Homo sapiens: one gene and its partners. The protein of the gene in region 2 binds, or shares a complex with, the protein of the main gene of each other region. Each region holds a gene or a part of one and is shown on either strand. Other genes may lie near its edges.

Region 1 (6,709 bases), on a different chromosome or scaffold from region 2:
ACAATTTAAACCTTCATTAAAAAAATACTGTGTGCCTACACAATTGTGTTGAAAATTCAGATGTTTACACAGTGCAGAGTAATAACCATTCTTGTACCAGTGAGTTAATAAAACAAACACCTTAATGACACTGTAGGGAAGAGAAGATGCCTTTCTTATGAAACTCTAAGGAGTTATCAATTTACTTTCAAGAACCCTTTTTTATTCTTTTGAGCAATGTTACTGGCAGACACATTATAGCTCCCAAGAGGCTATTTCTAAGCCAACATTGTGACTAAGTTGAAGGAATAGGGAGGCATATTGAACTTTTTAATGCAAGATTGATACCTAATAAATCAAAGGCTATAAATGAAAATAATTAACAAGAAAAGATAGAGACTATCCACCAAGAGGACCATATATATCACCAGTTAAAATCAGTCTTTCTACTAAATAATTTCCTTTGTGTCTTTTTCCTTCTTCTATAAACTCTTAACATTTTCTTGCTTTTTAGCCCTTTCAAGATATTAAGAGAAACCATTAGTGGTTGCATATTAAAAATGAATGAAAATCTATGTATATGTGTATGAACAAATTTATATCTACATATACACATACATGCACACAAATGGCTAGGCAAATAAATCACCCCGCTTTCCTAGGTAGAATAAAGCCTTTGATTAAGAATTTATTTAAGTTCTGACCAAAACCATTACCCCTGAGCTTCTCTGCTTAATGCAAGTAGTGGTGTTTAAGAAGTATATAAGGTTCAGGGACTGGCTTTCCTTAATTGATACTATCTTTTCTGTTAAAGTCCCTGCCTTAATTCCCATTACTAGCAAAAGCTACTGTCTCCACCCATTCAGATGAGATTTAAGCATTACTTTCAATTGCTGTGTCCTTTGAGTTGTATGTCTCACAAGGTCCTCCAACATGTGTATTATGAGTGTGGCATATCCTAATTTTGGGAAAGGAATGAAATCTAAGAAAATAGGGCAACAGTCAACATTTTGTCCTGTTCAAGCATGCACATGTTTTATTTAAGTATTCTCCAAAGGTCTATTTTTTTCCAGCATAATGCAGATATTATGCTATCCTTTGAAATAAGATATATGAATTTCAAACAAAATTGTCAAAAACAATGACCTTAGTTACTCCATATGGTACACAGAAATAATTACATTTCACTTACAATACAGATGCACTTAACACAGTCATCAATAGTCATTCACCACCAACACGGTATATTTTTAAATCACCTAAAACATCAAAAAGTTTTTTTTCTTTTCCAAAAGCCTAATAAAATTAATAATTTTGGGTAAGTGATAAATCAAAAGAGGAGGCAGAATTGTCAATTGAAATAACCTAACTGCATTTTCTTGTATGTAATATTAAGAACATGAAAATAGAACTTCTCATTGGGAATCAAAAGACATAGTAATTCTGATTATGGTTTCCTTAGTCTACTTTTTAGAAGGTTTTCAATAAATGCCATCAGATAAGTTTCACTAGACATTGCTCTAGAAGCATAAACTGACATGAGGCAGGTGTTAATATAATTGTTAATATTTGTACTGCTGGAAAATTAGTAACTTTTTAAAAGATGTACTAGGAATGAAGCCAGTTCTTCCCAAGAGATAGTTGAGTTTATCTTACTTTCACTCAGCAAATGTTTATTAAGATCTAATATGTGCATAGCACTGTTCTAGAAACTATTCTAGAAATGGGAAGCAAGAATTTCTGGCTTTACTAGAAAATGGTTGGATTAATCCCTTTTTATGATTAAATATCATAAGCATTTAAAAATCTCATCTCTGACAGAGGGATAATTATTAGCTCTTTCCATGTACAGAAGCTAAGCTTTATTCCTTACAGTGGTGGCTTGGAATGAATAAAAACTTTGCATTTGACATTAAACTTTTTTACACTGTCATGTGCAGACATGTCTGCTGAAATATTTTAAGGGTGAAAAGTTATAAAGACTTTTCACTTAAATGTACAGAGATCAACTTTGCATCATCAAACTCCTGTTCTCCTGATTTATTGGAGAAAATTGTACCTTGCAATACACAGGAACCTTTCTGAGATAAATTTGTGCTGCCTTCCTGAATGGCGTAGAAAGCATGCTTTCATCAAATATTGCTAAATAAAGCACTCCAGTGTATCTCTACATTTCAATCCACATTAGTTATTCTCAAAATGTATTCAAGATCTAAAGCAAAATAAATAATGCATCAAGTAAGATTCTGAGATGATTGATCCTGTGATATTAGTCCCAGTCAATTCTGTTCATAAAATACATAGTGATATATCCAGTATCTGGGCTTTTCCATAAACAACAAAGACGTTAGAGATAATTTATATGGGTCAACTCCTTTTTTTCTAGTTTTCGACAAGGGGATTGATGACAAGCTACTTACAAGATAATTTTTTTTGGAAATACAAAAGTAGGAAAGTCACTTGAACTACAGTAAACAGTAGTCTTGTTGATGATGATAAACCCAATAGAGAGGTGCTATAGAAATACAAGAACAGATAATGCACTGTGTCACAGGAATACAGTGGACCAAAAAATATTACTGAAAAACATTTATGGCACAATAGTTTTGGATTAAAAAGTTACCTAAAACCTGGCCACACCAGAAGTTTTTCTACGAATGTGGCTCTTACCGTATCTATAAGGATCTGGAAAGTACAACAACAAAAAAATCCTGATTCCTGATACAACAGTTGTACAACAAATTATTGCAGTTGTAACAGTATCTAGGTGCAAAGTTAAACGATAATGAATACTGAACTATCTGAACACTTTAGATTTACTAATGAGCATCCCCATGAGAAATACTGCAGGTCTAAAAGGAGTTTATTTGCACAGCCCACCATGGAACATGAACACTCAGCTTGTTGTAAGTGCACAGAAATTACCCCTTTCTACAATTATAGTTTATCATGCCTATTCTGAAGACAACATAAGGAAACTGAGATCACTGCTTCAAAGAATTCTAGCATGCATTATGATGGTTTCCTTCAGTCAATACAAATATGTTGTGTGAGTTTTTTTTTCATATGTAATAATCTTCATCATAGCCAATGTTCATGGTTTTAACAGGAAAAAATTTTATCAAAATGTTTTCCATATTTTTTTTGTTTTGCATTCAACTGGAACATTATGTTCAACGATTTATGTTATTTATTTTATTAAAAAAGAGTTCTGATCATAAGAAGCATCAGTAGGCGGCATTTCATTGTGCTCATTCACAAAGTCAAAGGGCCACAGAATATTACTCTGTATAACAGGTCAAACTGTCTAGAAATGCCATTTGGTGGTTTTATTCACATCCTTAAGATTGGAAGCTTTGTGTTTCACTACCAACCTTCTTTCTTTGCTGCATTAATCTGCAGAATATTTATTGTTTCTTCTTTCTTCTATGTTGAGATTCTTTTCACAGCCAGGGCTCGAATTCTCTTAGACCTTATTCCAATTGTCTTACAAAGCAGAAACTCTGACAATATTTCCTCCTGAGTACTCAGGGGATTCTGGCCTATCGTCTCCTTCTGGTGTGGTTACTGGAGGTGTTGGGATGCTTATTATTGCTGTAGTCACATAAGGTTGTTCACAGTTTAGTTTAACACACTCTTCCATTTTGGCATTTAAACTGGATCGGCTGATAGAAAAAAAAATATTTAGGAAAGTAAGTTGTTTACTTAAAATGTTTTTCATACAACTGAAGAATATGTGTTGTAATGCTTATAAAAATATTTTAATTGTCTAAGGAAAGTTATTATAATTAAAAATATGAAACACCAAATCTTAATCTATGTTAAAGATGAACATAGTAATTAACATTAAATAAATTTCTAAAAGACAGTTTGACTTGGTTCCATCAAGTATTTATCAAACTAAATGTATTATAAAAAAATGTAAGAAAGAAAGAGCTTCAAGTAAGATTTGGACAGCCTGGGCTGAGCAAAGAAGTTTTATTTAAGACAGACCTCTGAGAGGTTTGAGAAACCACTATGAAAGAGCCATATCACATTGATTTCTTAATTCCTTTGACCACAGAATATTTTTATTTTCATGTCTTTTTGGGATATATAATGCCCTCAAACCTCTGAACTTAATGATGATCACATATTACAGAAATAAAAAAATTATCTATTACTATCTAACACTTCAAGCTCCCAAATGGTATTATTGGATGAATTGTATACTCTATGTGGGGAAGGGGATAAAAGGGAAATGAGAGAGAAGGATATACACAGAAGCTTGAAACTGATTATTTTATTTTCATGGAAAACATAATTAAGATGTTTATGTCCTAAGATTTTCTTGCTAGATAATTTTCCATTGTCGACTTCACTTTATAAAGGATATAAAACTGCAAAGCTAAAATATCTTGAAGATAGAAGTCTTATGGCTCCTAATTTTAATTTTCTAGTCCCAGAGACATCCAATTTATGTAAATCAACATCACCTGAATTCAGAATCTCATCCAGATTTCAACAAAGACTTCTGAATGCCAACAAAGAAGAGGACTGAATTTACAGACTCTCACTCTAACAATATATGCTGTTCAATTTGAAAACAGAATAAAATTATTTTGGCAGAAACTGATTTTTAATGACATATATTGTTTAAATGTACAACTTTTTATTTTTACACATTTGTGGTAAAAACAGTGAATAAGGAAAAGCAAAGGAAATATATCAATATGGAAGTTTTACTTAATTTGTTCATAAACTAACCAGAGGCAAACAATTTTAGTACTTCACTTATTTTTTGTATTATGTTGATTTTGTGTTTGATATGGCCAAAAATACCTTTCTGATCAAAATTATATATTGATAGAAATGACTTATGTAGGCAAAGTTTTCATTTTTACTGTTACAGACAGTGTGTTTGTATATTTTTACATGCTGTTCAATAATTTTTAGCCATGTTGATCTCAATTTCATTTGACTCTTTTAGTAGTGTCCACCATCATTTCAGACTATTGAATATATAAGAGACTCCTGAGTATAAAAGTCCTTGCCCAAATAAGAAAAGGTTGTGGAACAGAAGAGAGAAAAACACATTTGTGTGCACTCAATCATCTCTTCTTCTTTCGACTCTTTTAATACTGATATAACCACTATTTTTAACCCTTAATGGATATGCAAGCAGAACCATTTTCCTACTTGTTACGCTACCATTTTTGTCTCTTCCTGAACCATAGGAGCTAGGGATTTAGATGCCATGTAAGTGACAACATGAGTGCAGAAGACACACCCTGGGAACCAGCACAGGTGTGTAGACAACACAGATTAATCTCAGGTACCTGTTAGACAGAGGTGTTCTCTCCACACATCTGATCTGAATCGTGCTGAGTTCTTGTATACTACCTTGATGGCTTCCTGATACATTGGCATTTGGGATGCGAAAAGTTTTTTTGTGTCGTCGTGAACAGCAGGTGCTGGTGACTCCTTGTTGTGAAGACAGTGAAGGACTGTGACTTGAAGGACGATTAACAGTTGCAACTTCCATGCAGCTTTCTTCAAAGACTTGTTCGTCCACAAACTCGTGATTCTGTTCCACAGTTGTAAGTAAATGAAGAAACAGAGAAGCACATTTTTAAAAACGAAATACATAGCTTTATTTTTAAAGCTCAAATCTGCCCAAGTATAGTTAGACTTGATACAATGGTTAAATAAAACCATTTTCATAAAGATTGACATCAAAACCACTTCTTTTTGGCATTTATGTGGAACTATCTCTGTAGTTAAACCTAGAGATTGACATCTGTAGGCTGATTTAGTGTCCCTTTATAGACTAACTTTATCTTGAAATATCATTTATTTATTTAAACATAAAATCTGGAAGGTATATGATAAGGAAAAAAAAAACCTAAAAAATGCATATAGATAAAACCCACAGGGAAATTAGAAATTCCCACTGACTTTATTTTTTAAAAAGGTTGAAGTTATGGAAAATAGATTATTTTAATAGGATGCCCCAAGTTAGATTGTCTGTTATATATTAGCAAATCTTTTCACATGGGAGTGAAAACATTTCTAAATTAGAAAATGAGACCCCTAAGACACTATCCATTTCTTTATATGTTCCTCTAAAAATGCCCAGTACAGAAAAATATGACTTATTCGTTACATAAGTAAAATATAATTGTCTGCCGAATGTGTCACTCTGTGTTCGACCCAGAAGGGATTAGCATTGAACTTTTGTGGCCTTTTTTGTAATCTTCGTAATACATCACTGGCATCACTGGCTGTACTCATGATCTCTGTATGCATTTGGGGTTTTTCCGTCACTATTTCCTAACTTCCAGCCCAGTAGCAAATAGCAATAGGCATCATTTCGCATATCGTATTTTATAGAAACATGGTATCAATTTTGCTTTTAAAATGTTTGACAAAAAACCTCCTGAAATGCCTATGGAAGAATTTCACCTCAGAAATATAAAGGAAAACATTTTTGGTCTGAACTACTAGAGAATGACCTCAATTACTATTTTGTTTTTCTTTGCATGGGTGGGGATAGTCTTATAATGGAAGGCTTTGCACATACCAAATTCCACTTAACCATCTCTCATCCTAAAATATGAGTAAAACAATTGAAGCAAGACACTGGCTAATAAGAAATAGATTATGTTTTAGCTACTCGTTTTGTCATTTCTTTGCTGAGACAAGCATTTTGAAATAAATGAAATTTAACATTCTACTCTTTAAAGTCTAG
Region 2 (8,046 bases):
GGGTAGTCTGCAGCTCCCGTCTTCCCGGCCCATCAGGCTTGCAGGGAAGCAGCTGGAAAGTTACACCTCAGGGCATCCTGGGTACCTCCGAACATTTTACTTCCCCACTCCCACCCCAAGCTCAAAAGGGAGCTGGGAGAGACTCTTTAGGAAAACAAAACAAAACAAAAAACAGTCCGAGCCCCGCCCGGACCCCTGTCTAATCCCTCAGGTCTTCCCAGCCCGGCGGGGCCGCTGGGCAGTGCGGTTCCGAGGGGAAAGGCCGCGTTTAGCAGCGGCCCTGTCTGAGCGGAAGAGAGAAAGGCCAAGAGAAGATGCGGAGAGGGTTGGAGCCTGGCTGGCTAGCCCTGAGCTCGGTCCCCCGACTGGGATCTCAGTGGAGTCCCTCCGGCCCTGAGTATTGTTGCCGGGGCGGGGGCGCCCCCGTGTGGCTGCGAGGAGCCATGCGCACGGAGCTGCTTTGCGGTGGGGATAGTCGCCGTCAAGTGGACAAGATTTGCCCAGAGTTAGGAGGTCATTCTCACCACTTAAATGTAGGGTTTTCAACCAATCATGCGGGATCCCAGTCGAAAGAGCGGGACTATATCTCTCCCGTAGGCTTTCCCAGGAATTTTAAGGCGTTAGAGAGTCCTGGAAGTGTTTACTTGGGGTCTAACCTGATAGAGATGAGTCCGGAGTCCAGGAAAGGGGCGCAGCGGGACCGAAGTGGGGGGGGGGTGCGGGGGGGGCTCTTCTCGAAGCATTCGGCTGTAGCCAGCGTATGGTGGTAGTCTGTGAACCTGCCGCACCGAGACAAACACAAATAGAAACAGTTATGAGAGCAAGGAATTTGGAGCCAGGAGACAGAAGGCAGTGGGGCACAACTCTGCTGCCTCTTCTTTGCCACCCCAATACACTGGCCTCTTTCTCCTTCCTCCTGGCTTTCTTCCATTGGCCCAGGAAGTGTGGGGAGTTGCCATGACAACTCTGTCCTCTTACCCCTTCGGCTCTTTATGCCAAAATGGTGGGGGCGGGGTGCAGGGTGCGGGGAGGAGTGCGACAGGCGGAGAAAGGGGGGCTGAAAGGGGGCAATAAAAGATACGGTTCATTCCCCATCCAGCTCTTTTCTCAAAACCCACATGTGCCTGCCTGGCCTCCCCGCCAGAACCCAGAAAAATGCTCCCTGAGAAGGCTGAGTCCGCGCCGCCCCTCCCCGCCACCCCCCCCCCCCGTCCAGGAACTTTGGGGGCGGCTGCTTCACATGATGGGGCCAGGGTGAGCTCCTCTCGTGCGGCCAGGAGAACATGGGAAGGCTCCAGGGTTTCGATCCTATGCCTGCCGGGCCGGCCCTCCCGCGCCGCCCACGCGGGCCTACCCGGGTGAGGGCGGAGACCGGACCGCCCCGGGGCCTGGGGGTGGAGCTTAGACGCCGAGCTCGCCGCCAAACCATGAACCGATGCCCCCGCAGGTGCCGGAGCCCGCTGGGGCAGGCAGCGCGATCCCTCTACCAGCTGGTGACTGGGTCGCTGTCCCCAGGTATGATGAGGAAGGGAAGGGAGGGGCAGGATCCTTCAAAAAGTGAGCGAAGTGGGTTAGGAGCTCCGCAGAGGTAGGGAGGGAAGGGCCCCTCAAATAGATGGAGGGAGCAACATCCCTCCAAGGAAAGGGCTTCCAAGACGAGATCCTGGACAGAAGCGGAGCAGGGGATGGGCCTCCTTACTGAGCAGGAGGAAGACAGCGCTCTTCAAAGAGGAAAGGAGAGGGGCATCAAGGTCCCTCACAATGGTGGAGGGGGCGGGGCTTCTCACCGAAGGCAGAGGAGGGGGCCTTAACTGAGGGGCAGGGCGCCTCCCAGGGATGAAAGGAGGAGGCCTGCAGCAGAGCAGGGAAAAAGTTCAGTCCTTTCCTGCATTTCTTGGCTGAAGGGGTCTTAAGATGAAGGGTTCAGTGTCCAGAAGGAAAAAACCCTGAGATGGGCCTAGACCAACATGAACTCAGCTAGCAAGTTCATACATGACATGGGACTGATAGACTTGTGTGGCTTAAGGATTGTATGTCTCTGTTTTCTCTCTCTCTGGGAGTGTGTATTAATGGGATTGTGCATTACTAAGTTGTGCATCACTGGGCTATGTATGGCTGAGTCTGTGTCTCCCTGGGGTTGTGATCACTGGGATTCTGTGACACTGAGACTGTGTGTACCTGGAGTTCTGTACTTTAGGACTGGGTTGAGGGTTCCTGAGCCTCTAAGTTGGTTGTGTAGCCTTCGTGAGGTTGTACCTTGGTGTGAAATTTGTGGAGTGTATGAGGTGTGGATTGTTGAGTATCCCACGGCACTGCTGAGGTGTATGCACATCTCCACTTGCATTTCCTTATGACTGCTTGGGCAGGGCCCATAGAACGCAACGTCTCCTCTGTACCTGACCTCAAACAGACCAAAACAACCTGGTCCTGTGGCATTCTGAGATCTGTCATTTTCTGGCTCTCTCCATGGGTATCCACTTGAGCCCCTGGAGTATAGATAGGGCCTGTGGCCTCTCCTTGCCATCTGTCCCCCAAAAGGAGGGTAGATGGATGGTCCTGAGCCAGAACCATACCTGGAAATCTTCTGGGGAGCATACAACCTCCAAGCCCCCTGCTTGGGCCTGTCTCCAGTGACAGATGGCTGGAGCCAGGCAGGGCCAGCTCTCAGTCATTGCAGGCATGACTTCCAGGACCCAAAATAGCCCCAACGTCTAGGGAGGTCATTAATCACTCGATGCAGCTGGGGGCTGCAGTGTCTTTGGCCTAGCTGGGAATGGTGTGGGTCTGGGGGACTGAGAGAAGGGCTTTGAGGTCTTCACTGGCTGGGTTAACAGTGGCGGTGGGGGGTGGGACAAAGCTAAACTGGGGAAGGTGGGACAGTTGCATAGAGTGGGTTCCCCCACAAGGCAGTGTTACTCACATTTGAACTGGGGGAGATAAATAAATAAATGATAGGAATATCTCTGTGGTAAGATTTGAGGGATCTGGGGAAGGCCCACCTCATGCCTCGAGATGGTTTTCCCTTGAGTTCCCACTCTGCCAAATTGCTTCCACAGAGATTTTACTTTGAGTGAAGAGCTAAATTCGTGGCACAGGGATGCTTGGGGAGGATGGATCTGGCAAGTTTCTCACTGAACCCGAGGACTTGAGAAGTCTCTGAGTGGGGAGAAGGGACAGCCTGGAAAAATAACTCATCCTTTCACTCCTGACAGACTCTGCCACAGGATGCCTGGCTGATTTAGGACCATGAGTCCTGGCAAGGCTGGGTCAAGGTCTCTGAGAGTTGAGAGTGGGAGTTAGGAAAAGGAGGGGCCAGGGCCAGGGCCAGGTCCAGGGCAACTGGCTGCAAGTTATCAGTAGCAGGGAGCAAGAAGGGGCTGTTGTGGGGCCCCTTTCCATTCAAATAGTCTGGCTTGGCATTCAAGGTTTCATGGAATTTGACCCTTTTTGATTTTATTACCCATAGCTCCCTTACCTAAACTAAGCTGTAGGCCCTAGGATTCCTTGACACCCCGCACATATTGGAGAGACTGCCTGAGGGAGCTGACAGATCACTGACTCTGGTTAAACAACTCATTATTATTATCATTATTATTATTATTGAGACAGAGTTTTGCTCTTTCAGTCAGACTGGAGTGAAGTAGCGTGATCTCAGTTCACTGCAACCTCCGCCTCCCAGGTTCAAGCAATTCTGCCTTAGCCTCCTGAGTAGCTGGGATTACAGGCAAGCACCATCACGCCTGGCTAATTTTTGTATTTTTAGTAGAGACGGGGTTTCACCATGTGAGTCAGGCTGGTCTTGAACTCCTGACCTTGTGATCCACCCGCCTCGGCCTCCCAAAGTGCTGGGATTATAGGCGTGAGCCACTGCACCCAGCCAAACTCATTCTTAATTAGCATGTCAGCTGTTATCTTGGAAAAAAAATCACTCTTTTTTCCCAAGATAAGCAGGGAGCTTATCTTGGCGGGGAGCTTCAATTCCTTCATCTGCAAAATGGGTATACTATCACTCACTCTGACCATGTCAGCTGTAAAAACAGGAATAATAGATCCTACCTCTCAGGTTTATTATGAGGACTAAGTGAGATACTACATGTAAAGTATCCAGGACACAAAATGTGCTGGATAAATATTATCTTTGTTTATTTGTTTATTTTGAGATGGGGTCTCACTTTGTCATCTAGGCTGAAGTACAGTGGCACAATCATGGCTCATTGCAGCCTCAAACTCCCCACCTTAGCCTCCCAGGTAGCTGGGACTATAGGTGTGTGCCACCACGCCAGGCTAATTATTATTATTTTTTTTTTGAGACAGAGTCTCGCTCTGTTGCTCAGGCTGGAGTGCAGTGGCGTGATCTCGGCTCACTGCAACCTCCACCTCCTGGGTTCAAGCACTTCTCCTGCCTCAGCCTCCCAAGTAGCTGGGATTACAGGTGTGTGCCACCACGCCCGGCTAATTTTTGTATTTTTAGTAGAGACAGGGTTTCACCATTTTGGCCAGGCTGGTCTCAAACTCCTGACCTCGTGATCCACCTGCCTCGACCTCCCAGAGTGCTGGGATTACAGGCATGAGCCACCTTGCCCAGCCCAGGCTAATTTTTTGTAGAGACAGAGTTTCGCCATGTTGCCCAGGCTGGTCTGGGACTCCTGATCCAACCTTTAGGGATTGGCAAGCAATCCCTAAATAGACTTTTTCCTAGGGGAAAGGAGTGGAACAGACCAAGCCTATTTGAGGCCAGACGCGGTGGCACACGCCTGGAATTCCAGCACTTTGGGATGCCGACGGGGGCAGATCACTTCAGGCCAGGAGTTCGAGACCAGCCTGGCCAGCATGACAAAACCCTATTTAAAAATATAAAAATCAGCTGGGCGTGGTGGTGCACGCCTGTAATCCCAGCTATTCGGTGGCTGAGGCACGAGAATCGCTAGCGCCACCGCACTTTAGCCTGGGTGATAGAACGAGACTCTGTCTCAAAAAAAAAAAAAAAAAAAAAGAGAAAAAAAAGCCTGTGTGAAGCGTCATCTTCCCACCTCTTCCCTGGATGGGGCAGGTCGGGGAGAAGGAAGGTGTATGGTACTGTGTGAGGTTGGACGCGTGCCCCCCGGTGGTGGCTGTATAGAACTGCAGATCAGCCAACCTCGACTGGGGCCTTAGGGACTGGCCCCCACCCCACAAATTGGGCTGAGACACAGTCATCCCAGAGCTGGACAAGAGGGAGGGCTCCTTCTGGGGCCAATCCCCCTAAATTGGGCCTCCTGGCTGGGCCAGCTTTCTAAGAAGGGAGCCAGTGTAGTGTGGTGGTTTAGAGTGAAGGCTGAGTCAGACTGGGTTAAAATTGAAGCTCTGATCTTGAAGATTTGCTTAACTTCTCTTTGACTTAGTTTCACCACCTGTAATATGAGGATAATAGTATGCCTTCATAGGCTTATTGTGAAAATTCGGTGTTACAACACCTGTAAGCACATAGTGCATTATCTAGTACATAGTGAATGCTCAGTCACCGTTAGCCAGCAGCGGTAGTAATGGTGTTACTAACCCAGAGGCCCTAGTCTTGTGGCTCATTGGCTCTGTAGGCCTCTCCCCACCCCTTTACACACACAAACACCCCACCAAGAAGAAGCAGGGAAGAGGAGGGAGGGACTCCGGGGATGCTGGCTGGGAGGGGTGGCTCCCTTAGAAGGTTCAGATTTCCCTCCTACAGCAGCTGGGCTTCTCCATCAGCTCAATAACAGTTCCTAAGGAGCAGGCAGGGCTTTAGCATCTCCCGGATGAGGTCCCAGCCACATACGGAGCCAGCACAGTCCCCCCTCCTCTCCCAAGAAGCTTGGGTTTCTTGACCCCAAAGGCAGCTGCAGTAAGTCCCCTCCCCAGAGGGTCCTGATGGGGTTAAGTGGCCTTTTTCTGCCTAGGCTACTACTGTATCTTATCCCCCCTCCCTTGGGCCTCAGTTTCACTGCCTGTGGCCTGTGGGAAGAGAGTGCTTCCCTCCTCACAGTCTCCATGGCAACCAAATCGATATTGGTGATATCCTCCTAGCAGGAGAGGTCACTGCCTTCTCCGCCATTATTCTCATACAATTCCATGCCAATACAATGACAAAACAGTAGACCCACCCTCCAAATTATACAACACATCCATACCTAACAAACTTCAGACCCACATCCTACAACCCTACTAAAACACAGGAACCTCACTCCCCATGCACACTCACAAATACTTCAACACACTCCTACACATGCAGACCATAGACACCCAGCTCACATACCCATATACGCAAGAGTCAAAATGCATAACCATACGCCAAACACACACCTCTGTGACAGGTGCACAGTCACGTGTAAGCACACAAAGACACACATAAGAGGAGACATATGCACTGCCATACTGACAAACACAGGAATATACACACAGGAAAACACCTGGCCACCACAACATATTCTGACCCATGCATCTGATTACTTATACATGTGCAGATGGTGGTTTCTCATGCACATACACCCTGCCCTTCCCTGCCTTCTCCCTAAGCTCAGCTCCTCCCTCTGCCCCTTCCCTTTGGCACAGAGTAGCCACAGGATGTCTAGGGGAAGCACTTCTCAGGGACAGAGGCGGGTCACTGCTCCCTCCCTCTGGCCCATATCTTGGCCAAAAGTTCCCAAGGAGGTGCCAGTCCAAAGGCTGAGGTGGCCCTGCGAAGAGGAAGAGGCGGCGGCTGTGGTTGGGAGGCTTGTGGGGCAGAGGCGGGGTGATGGGGGAGAGGAAGGAGATCCTGGGAGGGAGAGTGGGAGGGAGGCTGCAGGCAGTCCTACTCAGGCTGGGGAGTCTGAGGGGGAGGTGGTGTGAGGCGGTGAACCGGCGTATCTGAACCTGGGCCCTGTAGGGGCCATGCCCCAGGCCCACCATGAACCTGGAAGGGCTGGAGATGGTTGCTGTGCTCGTGGTCCTCGCTCTGTTTGTCAAGGTCCTGGAGCAGTTTGGCCTCTTTGAGCCTGTCTCCTTGGAAGGTAATCCAGGTGTCCTGGCATGTCTGAGCTGCTGGCTGGTGGGGCAGCTGCCCCACAGCACTAGGGAGGGTGTTTGTCTGTCTTCATGACTGGGGCAGGGATGAGCAGGTGAGTGATGGCACAGGGATCTGGGAGGTGAGTAGGGGTGCTTGGGGGATACAACATCTGGGAGGGGTGAAGAGGAGGCCTCAAGGAGTAGATATGGAGGGAGGAGGGAATCTGGGGGACCAAGGTGTCAGGAGGTGATGAGGGGTGCAGTGTGGGAGGACTGGGGTGTGGAGATGAGGAGGTGAGGGGATTCTGGGCGATACCAGGAGGGGTCTGGAGATAGGGAAGGAGTGTCTAGAGTAGAGGAGGGAGGTTCTAGGGATCCTGAGATAACAACGGATTTCTGGGGGGTCCTTTTTGGAGTCAGGGGCCCACCACGGTGCCTGTGCATCCTCTCCACACCTCCATCTGTGCAGTGTAGCTTATGGGGTGTGTGGGCATAGTGTGTGAGAGACACAGGGTGTGACTTTGTGTTCCTGTATGTGAGAGAGTACAAAGTGTGTAACTGTGAGCCTGTGTATGGGACAGGGATATGACTGTATGTGTGAGAGTGACAGGGCATGTGGCTTTGTGAGAAGGTGGATGTGGCCAGGCCTGAGTGGCACAGTATGTGGCTGAGCCTCTGGGTATCAGGTTGTGCATGTGGCTGTTTCCAGAATTTCCTGAGGATATACCAGCTCCATACCCAAGGCTTGGGAGGAGGTGGGTTCTGGAGGGAAGAGTGTGAACATTGTGAAGGAGACATTTATAGCCCAGCTATGATTGGGGATGAGGAGTGGATCAGATCAGGGACCCTGCTTCCCAAGTCCCCTTGCCTCTCCAAGCTCCTATCAGGATCCAAGTGCAGAGTGATCTCCAGGGCCTAGACATTGGGAGTGGAAAATCAACTCCCCTCCCCAGCCCACCCCAAAGTCAGTAGGGAGAGTAATATTGGGGTGGAGTGGGGAGCACTTCTGCCTCCCCCTTGGGAGTTTTGACCTCTCCCTCCTCTTCACGG
Region 3 (7,735 bases), on a different chromosome or scaffold from region 2:
CAGGAACTCACTCATTACCATGGGGAGGGCACCAAGACATGCATGAGGGATATGCCCCCATAACCTGAACACCTCCCACTAGGCCCACCTCCAACATTGGGGGTTGCATTTTAACATGAGATTTGGAGGGGACAAATATTCAAACTATGTCAACCCCACACATAACTTATGGAGGCCAAATACAGGAGAGGTCAAGAGTGTCCTCTTAGGATAGCCCCTCTATCTGACTGAGGAGGATACTCTACTTTCAGAAGCGGGGAAACCAAGGATCCTGGGATAGCGGCAAAAGGGAGAGGTCAGAGTTCCAATCCAGCTATGCAGCCTCACATCCTTCTGGAGTGTCCCTCTCCACCAGCTACCTTCAGGTTCTCTATCAATAAAATGATGGTAATATCTACAGTGCAGGATTATGGAAAATCTAGCAAGGAGCCCAACATATGGTGGCTCCTCAGCTTACAGCTGATATGCTAAGCCAAGCATTTGCAACGTTGCTTTCATCCCTTGGACAGCCTCCTGTCCTTCAGAGCTCCTCTTCCTGCTAGCAGCTTCCTGCGGGCCCATCGAGGTGAAATAAACTCTAATAGCAACTGAATAAAAGCTCACATGCCCAGCTGTGGGAATAAGGGATGGAACGCAATGGCAGTATGAAAGTGAGAGTACCCCAAACCCAAGGGGAGCCTTGGGGAGAATGAGGTGCCACCCTCCTGAGTTTCTCGCTGGAGCTCACTTTCAAAAGGCCTTGCTTTCAGTGGTTAAATAAGGGAGGCTGGGACCACATGGATAGTGAGGGGCCCGGGACTTACTCTTCAGCATAAAATCGGCTCCCAAGAAATGTCCCATGGGCTTCTGACATGGTCAAGCCCCTTCCTCATCTCTATCCCTAGACTCTTCCTCTATTCCTTCAACAGAAATCTCCCTTTTCTGGGACTTACAGAATTAACTATCTCAGCAAGGTGAACTTGACTGCCTGTGGGCTGTGGCCTGCCATTTTTATTGTTACATGCATGGGTGGGTGAGTGACTATATGTGTCTCTGTGTACAATCCGGCAGTTCTATCTTCCTCCTCAGACAGATTTCTTTGCACCTCCTGCCTGCACCACTCCTACCTTGAACAACAACAACCAACAATTATATTGTACTTCCCATGTTCCAGGCACGATTCTAAGCACTTTATCTGTGTTACTTCATTTAATTTTCACAACCCTATAAAGTAGATAGTATTATTTATTGCCATTTGAGAGAGGAAGAAATCATGGCACAGAGGGATTAAGTACCTTCCACATGATCACACAGCTAATTAACAGCAGACGCAGGTTCAAACCCAGGCAGTCTCACCTCAAAGTCTGTACTTTTTACTTCTAAGGTACATAGCACCCTAAATGTAGAAAGGCTGTAACCCTCAGAGGTACAGCCCACCCCCAAAATTCTTGCCCCAGCATGGGGCAGATTGCTAAAATGGGACAGCTATAAGCAGTGAGGGTGGGAGTGACCCTTAAGGACATTCTCAGGCATATGAGGCATAGCTTCAAAGAGAGAGCCTGAACAGAGCAGCCCTGGGAAACAGCCACGCAGACACACTAGCCTGGCACGTCAGCAAAGAAGCAGCCGACTTTGAGCTGGGCTCCCAATTACCCTCACAGTCCACACGGTGACAAGCTTTGCAAATACCGGCCACAGCCATGAGACTAAAGAAGAATCCTCATGTGTGCACAGCTTGGAAAGGACACACACACAGAGAAAGAATAGTCATCCATAGGAGCACCGTCTTTAAATAGAAAAGATAGCCTGAAATACACCCTGAGCTCGCGGGTGCTCACACACACAGACACACACGGCCAGGGCCAGAGGAGTGACTGAACAAATGCCTCAGCTGTGCTGGTGGCAACGGGAGGAAATCTAGTGCCCTGGCAGCTCCTGACTTTCAGTTCCTATTTAAAATGTCTGAATTGGGAGCATCGACAAGCTCCCAAATTAGCTTTTTAAATAGAAGCTGAGAGTTAAAGGAAAAGCGGCCGTGTCATGGGGGAAAAGCAAGTGAAAATCCCGGCCAGGCCGGGACCAGAGGCAGAGGGGGAAGGTGAGGACAGGCAGTGCTGGAAAGATGCAATAGATGACTGGGGACTGGTGGGAGGGACAGCATCTCCTGGGCAGCAGGACTACTCCAGCTGCCCGAATCAAGGGGCCTCCTTTCTCCCCATCGCTTGCTCTCATTTTGCAGATCACCTGGTTGTAGGAAGGACTGGTAAACAAAACCCACACTGGCCTAGACTAGAAATCCCAGTCTTTCCTATTTTCCCTAGATGGTTAAGACAGAAAGGAGAGAATAGTCTACAGCTACCACACTTAAGCAATGAGTTACGAGCTTATGAGGAATGAGGGGGCAGGTGTCTGGACCAGTGTCTGGTCTTCAAACGGAGCTTACGAGTCTCAGGAGGCCACAACTGTCCCATTAGTTGACTTTCTGAGGAGAAATGATGTGCCCAACTGTCTCCTGAAGCCTCCAAACACTGAGGGGGGCACTCAACCCCTGAGCTGCCCCCAAGATGCTAAACAACAGTGAGAATGTACAGGAGTTCAAACCTGGGCAGAAATAAAATATGGGTTTCACTTTCCCGAATTGAACATGGGATGGAGTACTGAAGGAAAGTGCCCCTGCCTCCTGAGTAGTGACCACCCAGGACCTGAGGCACTTTATCCCAGGGGTCAGAGCAACTGAGGAGTGCAGTTGCCAGAAAATTAGCCCTTCCCCAGAGGAAAGGGAGGAGGGAGGTGGGAGCAGCGCCAGGGCCTTCCCCGAATTCTTCCCCTGTCTGCCAGGGAGTGGCAGTGTTGTTAATCATTATTACTGTATGCAAATCCCACACAGCTCCGGGACTCCTGGCAAACGCTAATGGAGCCCACGCCCACCTCCTGAAGGGCCAATTGTGTACCTTTCAAACTGACAGACTGAAGGGGGCTCCGGAAAAAGTAAGAGTGAGTGAATGAGGGACTCCAAGGTGCCAGGGGCCACAAGGGCCCAGACCACAATTACCGACTTCCACTCCTTCATCTGGAAGAGGGCTAGGGGTTCTCACAAGCCAGAAGCCCCGTTCCGGATTCAGGGAGGTCCTTTTCCAGCCCTGGGTCTACAATTGTCCTAGGGTCTAGAACACCCTCGCAGTCTAGAACACCCCAGAGGTCACAACGCACTTTGCATTTCTCTGCCTCGGCACCCACCTCTCCACACCCAGAAATGTGATCTCTCAAGCCAAGCGTTCCCCGTCCCTGCTGGGGCACGGAGCTGCCTCGCTTCCGGAGCGCCAGGCCGAGATCCAGGATTCCGGGCACCGAGGCTGGAGACACCGGGAAAGCCGGAGCCGCGGGTCCGCCCAGCGGCGGGGACTGCGCCCTTTGCGCGCCGCCGCCCTGAGGGTGGGAATCTGGGCCGGACACCTGGCCCTGTGGGCACATGCTGACCTTCCCACTCCCCATCCTGGGTCGACGAGGCACGGAGCAGTGGGGACCCATGGGCTTCAGGGAGGGACTGAGGGGCTGGGCGGGCTCCAGTTGTAAGGGGACCGGCTCGGGTGAGAGTTCACGCTCCCAAGTCCAGACTCCCGGTCTAGGTAGTGGGTAGACGTGGCGGGAGAGGAGGGCGAATCTCGACCTTCTGATGGTGCCTTCGTCCTCCGAGAGGAGAGCGGCTCATAGGTGGGGTTAGAGGCAGTGTGTCCCCCGGGTACCTCTTCAGCCTCTGCACTCGGAGCTGAGAGCCGGGGGCCAGCCGCAAAGATTGCGCGGTAGGGGGCCCCACCTTGCCAGGTCGCCGGGCTTGGTCTCAAGCAGGTGCTGCTGCCCTGTGGACAGTCAGCGAGAAATAGACACACAGCTAGGTGCACACATACCCCACGCGCGCACACGCCGGCCCTCCCTGCCACCTCTCCGTGGGTCCCCAGCCACACACGCCCCCGAACTTACGCTCACGCCGTACTCCCTGCTCCTCCCCCACCCCCAAACCCAGCTCACCTTGCCACGCTCACCCCCGTGCCCACCCTCGCTGGCACACGCGCTCACACCCGCGTCGGTACACTCCGCCACCTCCAGGCACACCCTAGGATTCCTCCACTCGCCCGGGGAGACGCACTAGGCTCTGCCTCGTCTCCCCACCCCCCGCTCACGCGCGCGCCCCTCTCCACACACACAGACACACACACACGCACTCACACTCATACACACCCTCGCGCGCGGAGTCACTCCCCCTCGCACGCCCTCGCCCTGGGCACCCTCCCGCGGCGAGACTCCGGGTCCTCCTCCTCTCTTCCTCCACTGCCTGGCGGCTCGGCGCTCTCCGGCCCGGCCTGGGGCCGCTGGGCCCGCGGGGATCGGAGGGGAGCCGAGGGCGCAGCCTTGCCGCCTCCCCCGGACTCTCCTCTCCTCCCCGCCCCGCCTGCGCCGCGCCCCCACCACCTCCCCCCCTCGGGAAAGGGACCTCGGGAGAGGCAGCCCGTGGCCGGCCGGGCTCCGCTCGGCGCGGCGCCGGCAGCGGCGGGGGAAGGGAGAGAGCGAGGGAGCCCGCGAGCCCGCGAGCGGAGCGGCGAGGCGGGGAGGGGACGCGCTGCCGAGCCGGGGCTGGAGCGGCGGAGGCTGCGGCAGCGGCGGCGGCGGCAGTGGCGGCGGCAGTGGCGGCGGCAGTGGCGGCGGGGGAGGGAGGGCCCCACGGACGGACGGACGCACGAACCGACCGAGCGAGGGAGGCAGCGAGCGAGACTGCGCTGGCGAGGAGGAGCCGCGCGAGCGGCGGCTGCTGGGCGCTTCCCCGCGCTGCTGGGCGCTCGGCGCCTCCGCGGCCCCGGCTCCCGGCCGCAGCTTCCTCGCGCGCGCGGGGCGCCGGGCGCGGGGCCCGGGCTGGCTTCGCGGAAGGTAAGAGGGACGCGACCGAGCCTTCTGGAGCCAGGAAGTGCGAGGAGCGCTGCTCCCACGCCTGTTGCTCCGGCTGCCCACGCGGCACCCTCCCACTCCCGCGCCCGGGTGGGTGGGCGCTGGGGCGCCGGAAGGATTGGGGGTGGGGCCCGTGCCGTGGGGGAGCAGACAGCCGGCCCGGGGGCGTCGGTTCCCTCGGGCTGTGGAGCCACCTCCGGGCAGCCAGGCGCTGGGGTTCGGGGGTGGGGTGTGAACCTCTGCCCTCTTTCCATTGGCCTGTCTTCCCTCGGCGGGTGCCAGAGACAGGTGGCGAAGGCTTGCTCCGTCCCCGCTCTTGGTGAGGGGACAAGGAGAGAAATGGCTGAAAGTGGAAACCCGGAGCGGTTTGGGGCGCTTCGCAAAGTTCTCCAGCTCGGCGAGCCGGCGGTGTGTCTACCAGAGGCTGGGGGCCAGTCCATCTGGTCCTGCCCGACGCCACTTCCACCCCGCGAGCTCTGGGAAAGGTCTCTACGTGACGCCAAGGGCCGTCGCGGCCCCGGGGAGAGGGATCGAAAGACTCACTCTGCGAGGTGTTTACACTGGAGGTGGGGGACGGGAAGGGACTGGGCAAAGTTACCTGGACTCAACTAAATTCCTGCGCTTGCTTAGTGTTGACATTTGAATAGGATCCGAGATGTTCTGCTTTTATCCCGGGCAGCCCTGATATGTCAGCAACAGGCTGAGGTTCCAGACCTGAAATCGCACTGCAAGAAAAAGGGTCCGTATTTCTTAAGAGAGAGCGTCTGAACTTTCTCGGGGTCCTAGGCACAATGCGATCTGTTTGTAAGACCAGGCATGCGTTGCTGTATTTTGCATGAATGTACGTGATGGTCAAATGTATGCCTTGTTTACCTTACTTCGAGGGAGCCTGTATGTTTACTGTCTGTAGAAAGGGCTCCTGGGTGTCCACGAATTCAATACAAAGCATGTGTACATTTCCCCATGTGGACCTGTTGGCACACAGGAAGGGAACTGATGTGTTTATTTTTTCCTCGTCTCTACTTGAATGCAACAAAATGCAAGTATACAAGGGACCCCCCAGAGAAAGAGGTTAGTAGCTTGTTCCCTTTTGCTCTTGAGGAGGCTGGAGAAAAAGAGTTCAGGAAAGTGCCCTGGCTAGCCTAGGAGTGGCACCGTTGGAGAAGAGGATCTGTGCGTGTGTCCCAAGCCTGTCCCCCAAGGATCCCCAGCTTGGTTCACCTTGTCAGTTTCATGCTTTGCCTACCAAAATCCTGTGAACACAGGAGAAGCCCTCCGGGTCATGGGCACCTTCCTCTGCCCCCAGACCAGCCCCATTCTGAGCTAGGGGATGTGATGTGAGATTGTGGAAAGTAAGTTTCCAGAGGCTCTCCACTGAGGTCATTGAAGGACAGACCTTGGTGACATGACTTTTTTTGCTGCCTTATGCCTGTACTCAGCTAGGTGTCAAACCCCAGGACAAGCTGTCTGGTCACTCCACCCCCTTTTGGCCTTTTACCTCCAAAATAGAAGCTGTTTAATGGAGTAACTGACTTTTTACAGCAGGGGAAAATGTTTTCCTTTGCCAGGATTTGTCACCTTTTTCATTTCAGAGCTTACCTGTTTTGAATGCCTCTTTTCCAGCCTCCCCCCACCCCCTATCTTTCCCACTGTCAAACTCTTCTGCCAAAAACAAAAATAGCTTCAGATTTTTCATTTGTAAGGCGTCCACGTCCTAGTAAAACCTTGGCATTTGAGGCATGTGCAGTGCCATTGGCTGGAAATGGGGCCGCACTGTTGTGCCTGTTGCAGGAATTCATACCCAGGCCAGCTCCGGAAGGTGTTGGCTCCTGTCAGGGGGTGAATGCTGCTGTATGAGCTGTGGAGAAGGCCTACTTGAGTGGGTCATTCCTGCAGTGTTGTGGGGTGGGTATGGCCAGTGTGGCCTTGGATATGGTATCTGGTGGGACACTTGTCCTCCCCTTTCACCTCCCAACCCCCACACACAGAGAAAGTAACAATGGGGTAATTGCTCCTTTTTTGGTATGTTTTACCAGGGGGACAGGGGCTGAGCCTCTGGAGACAGCCTGGTGCTTGCTTGGCCTTCTTTAGGAAGATTGCCCTGGATTCACGCATGGGGTAAACATTTGGCTGTGGGACCAGAAGCTTTTATGGTCCCAAGATAGGGAGGGGTTAATTTTTCCTTCCCCTGAGCTCTCAATTATTCATCTGAAAGCAGTTTGTAAAGGACTGGTGGTCCTTGGAGATTGGCTTAGGGTAGAGAGGAGAAGGTGATGGGACTCAGCTTGGCAGGGGCAGGTACCTGGCATTAAAGCTTGGGAATCAGGGTAGAGCAGGACTAGGAGAATGAAAGGGGAAGGGCATCACCCTTTCAGGGGGCAGAACTGTGTGTCTGGCCACACAGGGTTCCACAGGGTGCCTCTGATTCAGTGATCTCTTACTTTTTGCCTCTTGAACCCCCTCAAGATTCTGCCTCTCTGAGCTTTATTCTGGGATAAAACAGGATATTAAGGGTCAAAGATCCAGGGCTCAGAGTCTGGGAGCTTGGTCTCCTTTACTCTCTAGGAAGGTGGCCAGGGGTTCTGTGGGTGAACTAGGCCTTGGATTGCCCCTGGTTTCCAAGTGACACAGGTTGTGTGCCCTGTGCTGAGCACCAGCCTCAGCAGGAATTCCCAGAGCTCCCTTTGCTACCTTGAGGCTCAGGCTAACTCCATCCTCACAGCAGTAAGCCCAGATGCTCTACTTCCTTCTTTGCATGGGTGATTGTCATTAAGAGGTCTCAATGAGACCTAAGCTATAGACTTGATGTCCTGGATCC

Evidence for each region.
Region 1: the proteins of KCNIP2 (region 2) and KCND2 are in contact, whole or in part, in a cryo-EM structure (PDB 7UKH), measured with the Homo sapiens proteins. Residues at the interface, in NP_775283.1 of Homo sapiens: Arg112, Gly113, Phe114, Asn116, Glu117, Cys118, Val123, Phe128, Ile131, Tyr132, Gln134, Phe135, Phe136, Tyr144, Leu148, Phe152, Phe165, Leu169, Ile172, Leu173, Arg180, Trp183, Ala184, Leu187, Tyr188, Met201, Met205, Ile208, Met211, His228; in NP_036413.1 of Homo sapiens: Val5, Ala7, Trp8, Leu9, Pro10, Phe11, Ala12, Arg13, Ala14, Ala15, Ile17, Gly18, Trp19, Met20, Pro21, Val22, Ala23, Ser24, Gly25, Pro26, Met27, Pro28, Ala29, Pro30, Trp55, Asp57, Arg61, Arg100.
Region 3: the proteins of KCNIP2 (region 2) and KCND3 are in contact, whole or in part, in a cryo-EM structure (PDB 7W6S), measured with the Homo sapiens proteins. Residues at the interface, in NP_775283.1 of Homo sapiens: Arg112, Gly113, Phe114, Asn116, Glu117, Cys118, Val123, Phe128, Ile131, Tyr132, Gln134, Phe135, Phe136, Tyr144, Leu148, Phe152, Phe165, Leu169, Ile172, Leu173, Arg180, Trp183, Ala184, Leu187, Tyr188, Met201, Met205, Ile208, Met211, His228; in NP_001365898.1 of Homo sapiens: Val5, Ala7, Trp8, Leu9, Phe11, Ala12, Arg13, Ala14, Ala15, Ala16, Ile17, Gly18, Trp19, Met20, Pro21, Val22, Ala23, Asn24, Cys25, Pro26, Met27, Pro28, Leu29, Ala30, Pro31, Asp33, Trp54, Arg60.

The regions. Positions count from the first base shown.
Region 1 is NC_000007.14:120,744,616-120,751,324, reverse strand, and holds the end of KCND2 (A-type voltage-gated potassium channel KCND2), read right to left. Parts: intron 5,546-6,709; coding exon 5,298-5,545; intron 3,645-5,297; coding exon 3,467-3,644; 3' UTR 988-3,466; downstream 1-987. UniProt on the Homo sapiens protein: Voltage-gated potassium channel that mediates transmembrane potassium transport in excitable membranes, primarily in the brain. Mediates the major part of the dendritic A-type current I(SA) in brain neurons.
Region 2 is NC_000010.11:101,833,222-101,841,267, reverse strand, and holds part of KCNIP2 (A-type potassium channel modulatory protein KCNIP2), read left to right. Parts: intron 1-1,396; exon of another isoform or gene 1,397-1,427; coding exon of another isoform or gene 1,428-1,515; intron 1,516-6,844; exon of another isoform or gene 6,845-6,898; coding exon of another isoform or gene 6,899-7,001; intron 7,002-8,046. UniProt on the Homo sapiens protein: Regulatory subunit of Kv4/D (Shal)-type voltage-gated rapidly inactivating A-type potassium channels. Modulates channel density, inactivation kinetics and rate of recovery from inactivation in a calcium-dependent and isoform-specific manner.
Region 3 is NC_000001.11:111,986,669-111,994,403, reverse strand, and holds the start of KCND3 (A-type voltage-gated potassium channel KCND3), read left to right. Parts: upstream 1-4,735; 5' UTR 4,736-4,899; intron 4,900-5,229; exon of another isoform or gene 5,230-5,656; intron 5,657-7,735. UniProt on the Homo sapiens protein: Pore-forming (alpha) subunit of voltage-gated A-type potassium channels that mediates transmembrane potassium transport in excitable membranes, in brain and heart. In cardiomyocytes, may generate the transient outward potassium current I(To).